2 separate regions of the Homo sapiens genome follow, and region 1 is linked to region 2. Evidence: fine-mapped expression QTL. A gene starts in region 2. The other region holds a variant in brackets. All regions are shown on one strand. Distances are between the middles of the regions. Region 1 overlaps SULT1B1 (sulfotransferase family 1B member 1). Region 2 holds the start of SULT1E1 (sulfotransferase family 1E member 1).

Region 1 (4,411 bases), 110 kb before region 2:
TGAAGTAAGAATAGACACATCATTAGTCATAGTTGAGCATGTTTACAATCCACTGTCAGGCAATTGATAGAACTGCTAGACATAAAACAAGAAAGGATATAAAAGAACTGAACAACATTATTGGTCAAGAGGATGTAATAAAAATATAGGGAATACATCCACCTACAAAGAAGAATATGCAACCTGCTCAAGAGCTCAGAAAACATTTAACAAGATAGAACAAGATGAACCATAAGAAATTTAAAAGAATTGCAATTATGTAGAGTATGATCTTTGACTAAAACGGAATAAAATTAGAAATCAATAACAGAATGAAAACATAAAAATCCTCAAACACTTAGAAGTTAAATCATACACTTCAAAATCTTGCAGTAAATGAGGAAATTTCAGATAAAATAAAAATGTGCATAGCATTGAGTGCAATTGAAAGCATGACATATCAAAATGTGTGGGATGCAACTAAAGCTTTACTGAGGAAACATATTTACAACACTAAAGGCTTATTTTAGAAAATAGGAAAGAAACAAATCAATAATATCAGTTCCTACTTAAAGAGATTAGAAAAAGAAGAGTAAAATAAATCCAAAGTAAGTAGATGGAGAGAAACGATAGAGAAAAAAAGCAGAAATCTATGATACTAAAAACAGATAAACAACAGAAATAATTGATAAAACGAAAAACTAGCTTTAATAATATCAATAAAATTAATATACTTAAGAGGGACAAAAAAGAAGGAGAAGGCACAAATAACTGAGATCAGGAACAAAACAGGGTATCAGAACAAATCCTGCAGCCGTTAAAATAATAATGAGTATAATATTAACAACTTTTCATTCATAAAGTCAACAACTTAGAAAAGTTTCTCACACATCACAAATTGTCAAAAGTCAGATAAGAAAAAAACACATAATCTACATAGCACTGTAGCTATTAAATAAATAGAATTTGAAGTATAAAATTTCCCCAAAAGCAGATAAGCAGGAACAAATGTTACAACAAAGAATTATACCAAATCTTCAAATAAGGACTAACGTCCTTAAGTTCAGTTTTTACAGAAGGCCTGAAGATCTAGGGAGAGTTGGAAAAAAAAGTAGTAATATTGTGCTGAGGTTTGGATTCTGTTGCTGCTCAAGTTTGGAAAACTTGAGTATATAAACTCAGACTAAAACTTAATGGCTTTTGAAGATTTACGTACAACGTGAGTGGGTATAGTATAGATTGTTGCAAGTATATGGTTAAAGAAACAAAAAATATTTTAAAAAATAAACTATGTGAGTGGGTAAAGGGATAGGGCCATACTAAAAAACTGACATGGAGTCTGGAGTATACCTTGCAATTGTTTTCCCAGAAAGATTTAGGAAGAAGATCAGTCGGTAGATGTGTTTTCACAATCCGGGGTGATGGATTCTTCTCCAATTGTTCTATACCTGAGAAATTTAGTTAAGTATAGGGAAATATTAGAGTCTCCAGAAAGGCTACGTTTCCTTATTTTGCCAACCAGTTTTTCAAGACATTTTTGAGCATTATGTAATGCAGATAAATTCTGAAACAATCACAGGCATTTCACCACATTACTAGAGTCAGTATTGTGTAACATTCAAGGATACACATTCTGAGGTTAGCCACCCTGAGTTCAAATGCTAACTCTATCACTTAAGCATTGTGAGACACTTTGAAAGTATCTCAGAATCTCTGTACTTCACTTT[C/T]TCCATCTCCAAAAGGAGAGATAATAATACCCTCTTTAATAATTTGGAGTTTTATTATACCTGTGCATTGCTATAAATGACTATTTAAATGTTTTCTTCATGCCAAAGAGGTATCAATAACTAGTAAGTCTAAAACTGGCTATCGTGTTGTATTAGGTACTGTAGCATAGATGATGTTAACTTTGTATATAATATCAGCTGTTTTATCTATATTTTCATTATATCCTATATGTGTCATATGTCTCTCCATATATGTATAGACAGTAAAAATGTGTAATCTTTAGATATTAGCTTAACTCTCTAAAGTCATACAACAAATATGTGGTAGAACTTGATTTCAAATTAAGGTCTTAAGATAGATGATACATAAACTTCTTATGCATTCTTTTATGTTCCACAGTATTACTTATATACAGTCTAAACTCTAGAATACCTGATAATCTTACATAATCTTGCCATCTCTGAATAGAAAGGCAAACCCACACAAAATTGCATCTGACTCACTCATTGAAAACAATGCTTTGTTTTAAATGTTCACAGTAATTCACTGCATATGCTAAGAAGTCATTCAGCCTATTACATTTTTCTCTTAATGTTCTATGAAACACATTTTGACTTCATAGTTTATTTACTTATTTGTTTGCTTACTGTATGTCCCCATGTCCCTTCCCCAACCTCACTCCTAAACTTAGACTAAAATGGAGATTTCATAAGAACAGAGATGTAACTTGTTTTGTTCATAAATAAATGTCCATCGAGAACCGTGACTAGCACATGGTTAATATGAAGAAGCCTATTTAATGTCAGTAGACACAGGTTTGGCATACAGGAAATTAAAAAATGTGAAAATCCAAGTTAAATTTGAATTATCAGATAAATAGGTTGTTTTTAGCAAGAATATTTCCCTTACAACATTTGGAAAGTACTTACATACTTAATAAAATGGTTATTTATCTGAATTTGAAATTAATTAATTGTCCTGTATTTTATTTGCCAATATAAATGACTGTAAACATAAATTACTATACAACTCCATCAGGGATTTTACTATGCCTCTACTGATCTAGCAGCTACAGTCACTTTACCCAGCATATAAAAATGAGAAATTGTAATCCTCCACAACTCGTTATTACTTAATGTCCATTAGATGAACTTATGTCTGTTTCTTTTAAGAAGTTTTTCTCACATCTGTTGTTCCTTGTTCCGCATTCAGCTTCCCTGAAAGATTTCTCAATTTCCCCTATTTTGCAATCATTTTGCCAAGTGAGTCTTTTAATGAACCCTTTATATCCACAAGTATGAGTGTTAGCAATGTATAAAGACAACAAAATTATCCACATTCAGGCTCTGGAGTTTGTTTGTTTGTTTATTTGAGACGGAGTCTCACTCTGTCGCCCAGGCTGGAGTGCAGTGGCGCGATCTCAGTTCACTGCAAGCTCTGCCTCCCGGGTTCACGCCATTCTCCTGCCTCAGCCTCCCGAGTAGTTGAGACTACCGGCGCCCGCCACCACGCCCGGCTAATTTTTTGTATATTTTAGTAGAGACGGGGTTTCACCGTGTTAGCCAGGACTGTCTCGATCTCCTGACCTCGTGATCCACCCGCCTCGACCTCCCAAAGTGCTGGGATTACAGGCGTGAGCCACCGCGCCCGGCCTAGAGTAGATTTAAATGCTGCAGTTTACCCTCATCTACCTGATGAACTTCAGCCATTCACTGTCAGGCAATGCTGCATATCCTCCCTCTCTATCCCCAATCCTGCCTTCCATCTGTTATCCCTGACTCCCATGTCTCTGATTACTTTGGTTCTGTCACTTTTTCATTTCATACTTTCTATGGTTCTGAAGTCTTGCCTCCCTCTTGAACTCATTTTGGTTCCTTGCCCCAGCATAATCCCTCAGTTCCAAGCTTTCCAAGGATAGGCATGTTTAAGAACATCAAGACATAACATAGTCATGTTTAAGAACATCTTATCATAACCATTTGTTTTAAGAAACTTTGCAGTTTGCATTTTAAGTCCTTGACAAATGTAAGATTAACAACTTTGTGAGAGTAACAGATTTGCTTTGTAATGCTAAGTAAAAAATGTTGAGTATTTATACTTGAATTTTAAGTTGAAATCTTGCTAAGTGTCTAATTTTCTTTTTTAAATTTGTTTAGAGACAGAGTCTTGCTCTTTCGCCCAGGCTGGAGTACAGTGGTGGAATCATTGCTAAGTTTCTATGTAGTTTTGGAACATTTAAAATGGCTAAGATTTGCTGTATTTATGAGCTTAATTTATTGGACTATAAGTACTTGGGAAGGTTTGTCTTGGTCAGATAAATTAAGTACTCAAGGAAATGAAATATATTAATATATAAATGCCACTTAAGTGTTTAAAGGAGCTTAATTAAATAAAACTTGGATTGAATATTAAACTCCTTTTGTTATATAAGTAAAATAATAATATTTATAAGCTGAACTTAATGGCTTAGGAAACAACTGGGATTTTATATTTGTAACTTTGAAAAATTGAATATATTTTTTAAACAAAACAAAACAAAAATTGGCATTTGCTGTCTGAATTCTGGCAATGACATAGAAGGACTGACATCTTGCCAGTTGATCCGTCTCTGCCTACGGAAGTAACTAGTTCAGTCAGCCTGCTGAGGGGCACCTCCATTATAGAAGAGGATTTGGATATTTCTCTTCACATTGGCATACAGGTC
Region 2 (4,411 bases):
TTTCAAAATTGCTGGGGCATATAAAAAGACAAAGAGGTCCAGAATTACAGTTATTTTAGCAAATTATCCAATTATGTATATGTCAAATAACAATAAAGATCATTACATTTGATTATTATTGCCGGGTATCTAAGTCAGAGATTTTTGACTTCCTGAATATGTATCATTTTTTTAAATAAACCAAATGCTTGGTGAATGTATTTAAAAGAAAAGATGAAATTAATTACACTGTAATGGTTATATCAAAGAAATGGAATCTTGAGAGTATAAAGGATTCCTCTGTGACCTTTAAAATTACTTTTTTCCCCATTCGATCAATAAGGTAGTGGATACTCCCATTGAATGACTTGGCTAAAAATGATAAGGTTAAGCAAGATGGTTATCATTTCCTAATTCATCTCCTGATCCCATGACAATCTATTTCATGTTCAAGGTTACTAACAGAATTTTTAATTAGGCATACTTTCTTTCATTAGCTTTCAAATTCCTTTAGTATCTTGTTTTTTCAACTGCCAAACTTAGCTTATTTCAAGTTTCTGACATAGCTTCCCAACACATTTTGTCTTTCCTGACATTAGCCTTTCTAGATCTTCCTCCTGTTCACATTTGCCCAAAAACCTGCCTGATAAGTTCTTCTACACACATAAATTGCCCCAGCCCTTAGGACAATCTCAACTTTTAAAAAACCTTCCTCTACATCATATCAGATGTAATGTCACCAAAAATATGAGATTTCTATTTCCAAAATGCATATTAGCCTTATCAATAAATCACTTGTTCCCCAAGCCTTCTCCTTAGTCTCAGAAAATAGATCTTTCACTAGAAGAAATGTGTATAAAATGCACCACGATTTGTCCTGCCTATTGGTTTGCTTACTCATGTGAATTACTTTCTTGGTGTTCAGCCAAGTTTATAAGAATTGGCTTATAGTCAGCTGGGAGTGGTAGATTTATCATTAAGTGGTTGGCTGACTTCCAGCTACTCCTTCATAGTCAATTTTGGTCTGAGAGGCAAAGTAGGTGGCATGTAATAAAATATCTTTTCTCATTCTATTCCTTTTGGTAAATTGTCTCATATTACAATGTATGGATTTACTTCCTATGTGATCCCCATTTTCTCAAAAGATCTATTTCAGTTAGAAATTGTCAATTTTTTATTCTGAGTATGTAGGTCAGTTGTTCAGAAATAAACATCAAAAAAGTTGTTAAAATTGTGACTTATAAATTCAATTAAACTCAGAAAGTGTTTTTCCTTCCCGCTCTCCTTCCTCTCTTTCTTCCTTTCTTTCTGCATACTCCCCTCCTGCATCTTCCAACCTGCCTTTTATCCAGCAAATACTCCCTATGTGAATGCCTACCCTTTTCCTAGGCCCTGTAGTCAGTGCTAGAATACTATGGTGGATATAGATACATAGGGTTCTCATAGTCCCTACTTTCTTAGATTTACCTGTATGAGGGCAAAGTGACTTTTGTACATGTTTCTATCCCAATCTCCAGCACTATGACACAAAGTAGATGTTCAGAAATATTTGTTAAGTTCAATTATTAGATCAAGAAGCTCTCTAGTTTCTACTAAGTAAGGATTCACAGATTTAAAAGGCAATATATGTCAATGACCTACATATTAATTATTTACCAAGGACTTTGGATTTCTGTCATATTTATCTGAAGTTTCTTACATGAAAGTAATGCCCCTATTTGCAAGACCCCTTATCACAGGAACACAAAACTAAAAGTCAATCTCTATTCTACCTCCTTCTACCCTGCTTGCTTTATTTTCTCATTGGTAAAATGGAGAACACGTCCAGCATTCAGCACTTTTAAGATAGCAATGGTACTGTAATTTTACATTAAAGCAATAAGCAACAAAATACTACATAAATGTAAAATATTATTTTTAACAACAAATTATTTTAAAAGGTTTTAAATGCTTCACATCATTAATTAACTAAAGTATCAATCAAGACTTTGGTCTTTGTATATTTTATTTTTAAGAGCTTTGTAATACATAATTTTCATTCTATATTTTATATATCTAAAATCTAAGTATTGATATTAATAATAAAAAAGTACAACCTGTTTAGTTGATCCTGTGAAAGAAATTGATCTAGTTTATATCTCTTCAAATACCAAGGCAGATCTTAAGCTGCAAAAAAAGATGAGAACCACTTCTGCATTTGGAATGTTTCTGGTGAGTTTATATCCTGAATGCCAGAGAAGGAGGTGGAGATTAATTTGGGGGCTTGGCTTCATGAAGTCCATGATGCAATAGTTAATGTAGATGTAAATGCATACCTGCAGCTGCAGTAACCACACAGAGTCATGTTCATTCATGGAGATGTAGAAATATCCTGCTGTTATTTTTTTAATTATTTGGCTCATATTCAAATTCCCAAGTCTGCCGTCAGGGGTTGGGGAAGAAGGAGGGAGAAAAGGAAAAGATGAGAAAGAAGAGGCCTGGGAAGAGAGACTGGGAAGGGAGAATCCCTTATTCACTCATTGACAAATAATAGCATGACTATGGTTAACTTTCAAAAGAATAAACTTATTGGAGTGAAGAAAGAGAAGCCAATGAGGAAAGAAATAAGACAGCAAGGACCCTCAATCAGACCTAGCTCAGTTTATTAAGACCTGCCAAAGAAGTCATTGGGTTGTATCTTAACATGTCAATTGGAAAACACCTATTTAAACTCTTTGCCTTTAACTCTTAAGCAGACCTGAAAATTTTAAAAAGCAGATGACAGCTAAAGAAAGAATGTAAACATCACTCACCTTTCGATTATTATTTTAGAAACCTGACTTCTCTCTGCTCCCAACCACAAAATAGCATACTGTGAATTTTTCAGGTAATGATAGCTACCAACACTTGGAATTTACACAAGAGAATTAGAAAAATAAATGGCCAAGGGTTTGTGGAATCCACAAATGCATTACCTTTCTTTTCATTTTTCTGCACCTACTCTGTCACTTAAGAAAATTATCCTTTGCTCCACCCCATCAACACCTCCAACCCTGTTATTTCTTATTTCTCTATTAATTACTGTTAGATTACATTTCCTTTGAGAGGCTCACTCTTACAAGACTCTATGTTTCTCTTAGTGACTTTTAAACTTTGAACTTTCTCCTAACTAGTATTTATTTTACTGTGTTGTAAATCAATGTTTGCTTGTCCAGAGTACTTTTTAAATTATAAATAGCTTGAAAACAGGGTCTTACTCTGTAATTAGCATTTTTTTCTGGCATCTAGTAGGCTAGGCATTGAATATGTATTTACTGAATAAAAGTGGCTGATTTATTCAAGAAATATAAGAAGTTAAGGGGGCTATAGTTGTTATAGAAAGCAATATCTAGCCTTATGCAAAATAAGAGGTGTTAAGTGGTTTCTGAAAAATGGGGCTTTTCATAATAGAAAATTAAGGTAGAAAAGGAGTAACCAGGGACCCAAATTTAGATTTTCATTTTACTTTGTTTTATGCAGTCTGTCATATTATTTGAGTTAAATAAAATATGTGTTGAAAAACAATCATTAAATGTACAAATTTACTCATTCATATGCCTACTATGTACCTTTAAAAATTAAGTATATATATACAAATTTAATACAGAATATAATTTTTAACCTTGCAGCATAGCTTCACTTTATTTTTTTAATGACAAGAATCTATGAAGTTTCCTTTATTGTTTAGCGAAAACATTTTTTAGTCCAAAAAAATCAGAAAATGAGCACAAGCTAATATAAACAGATTTAACCTCAATACATCTGTCTGTTTTTCACTTGTAAACAATTGGTTGCAGGGATGTCACAAATGCTCCTAACTCATGTAATTCTGGCAACCACAGATGTTCAATACACATTTATTCTTAGAAAATCTTTCTAATGTTAAGAATTCACTTACTGATAAAAACAAAACAACAGGCAAGATGGCCCTGAAACCTCATTCTTCTCCATGAGTAATGGGTACAGACTGAGTTACAAAATGTTTGAGTCAATGTCAAAAAAAAAAATGGATCTCAGATAAGGACCGGTTTTTAATGTTTATCTTGACCCTCAGAATTTGGGCAGATATCTTGAAAATATGTACATTTATTAAGTATTATAATAATGTCAAACAAAAAGAATGTGGGCAGATATGCAGACAGACATACTGCTGTTATACTCTGAAACACTGAAAACAAGTGTAAAGCTGGCACTTCTGTGTGACAGAGTTCCCAAAACAATTACTGTGGCTTTTTTGTGACTATTGGGCTTTTTCTGTAGCACACACTTTCTCTGGATCAAGATTAAAAGTCCTATAGAGTCTTTTTTATAAATAGCAAGATTTTAATATTAATAATGTGAAAATAAGTTGCATGTTTAACTGAGCCTTTGTCAAAGTTAACCTGTAATCCCCATTACTTGGGAAGCTGAGGCA

What was found. PIP is the estimated chance that this variant, and not a neighbour inherited with it, causes the effect.
Region 1: its variant is the best candidate, but not a certain one, in a credible set for the expression of SULT1E1 in lung (TOPMed, PIP 0.59).

Annotation. Positions count from the first base shown.
Region 1 is chr4:69,748,392-69,752,802 of GRCh38, forward strand. It overlaps SULT1B1 (sulfotransferase family 1B member 1), which reads right to left. Exons shown (of 8, transcript NM_014465.4): 4 at 1,330-1,427. Among named protein-coding and RNA genes, the nearest start is that of SULT1B1, 10 kb to the right of the region's middle. The variant C/T (reference allele first, on the strand shown) is at 1,707.
Region 2 is chr4:69,857,974-69,862,384 of GRCh38, forward strand. SULT1E1 (sulfotransferase family 1E member 1) reads right to left here and starts at 2,172. Exons shown (of 8, transcript NM_005420.3): 1 at 2,076-2,172.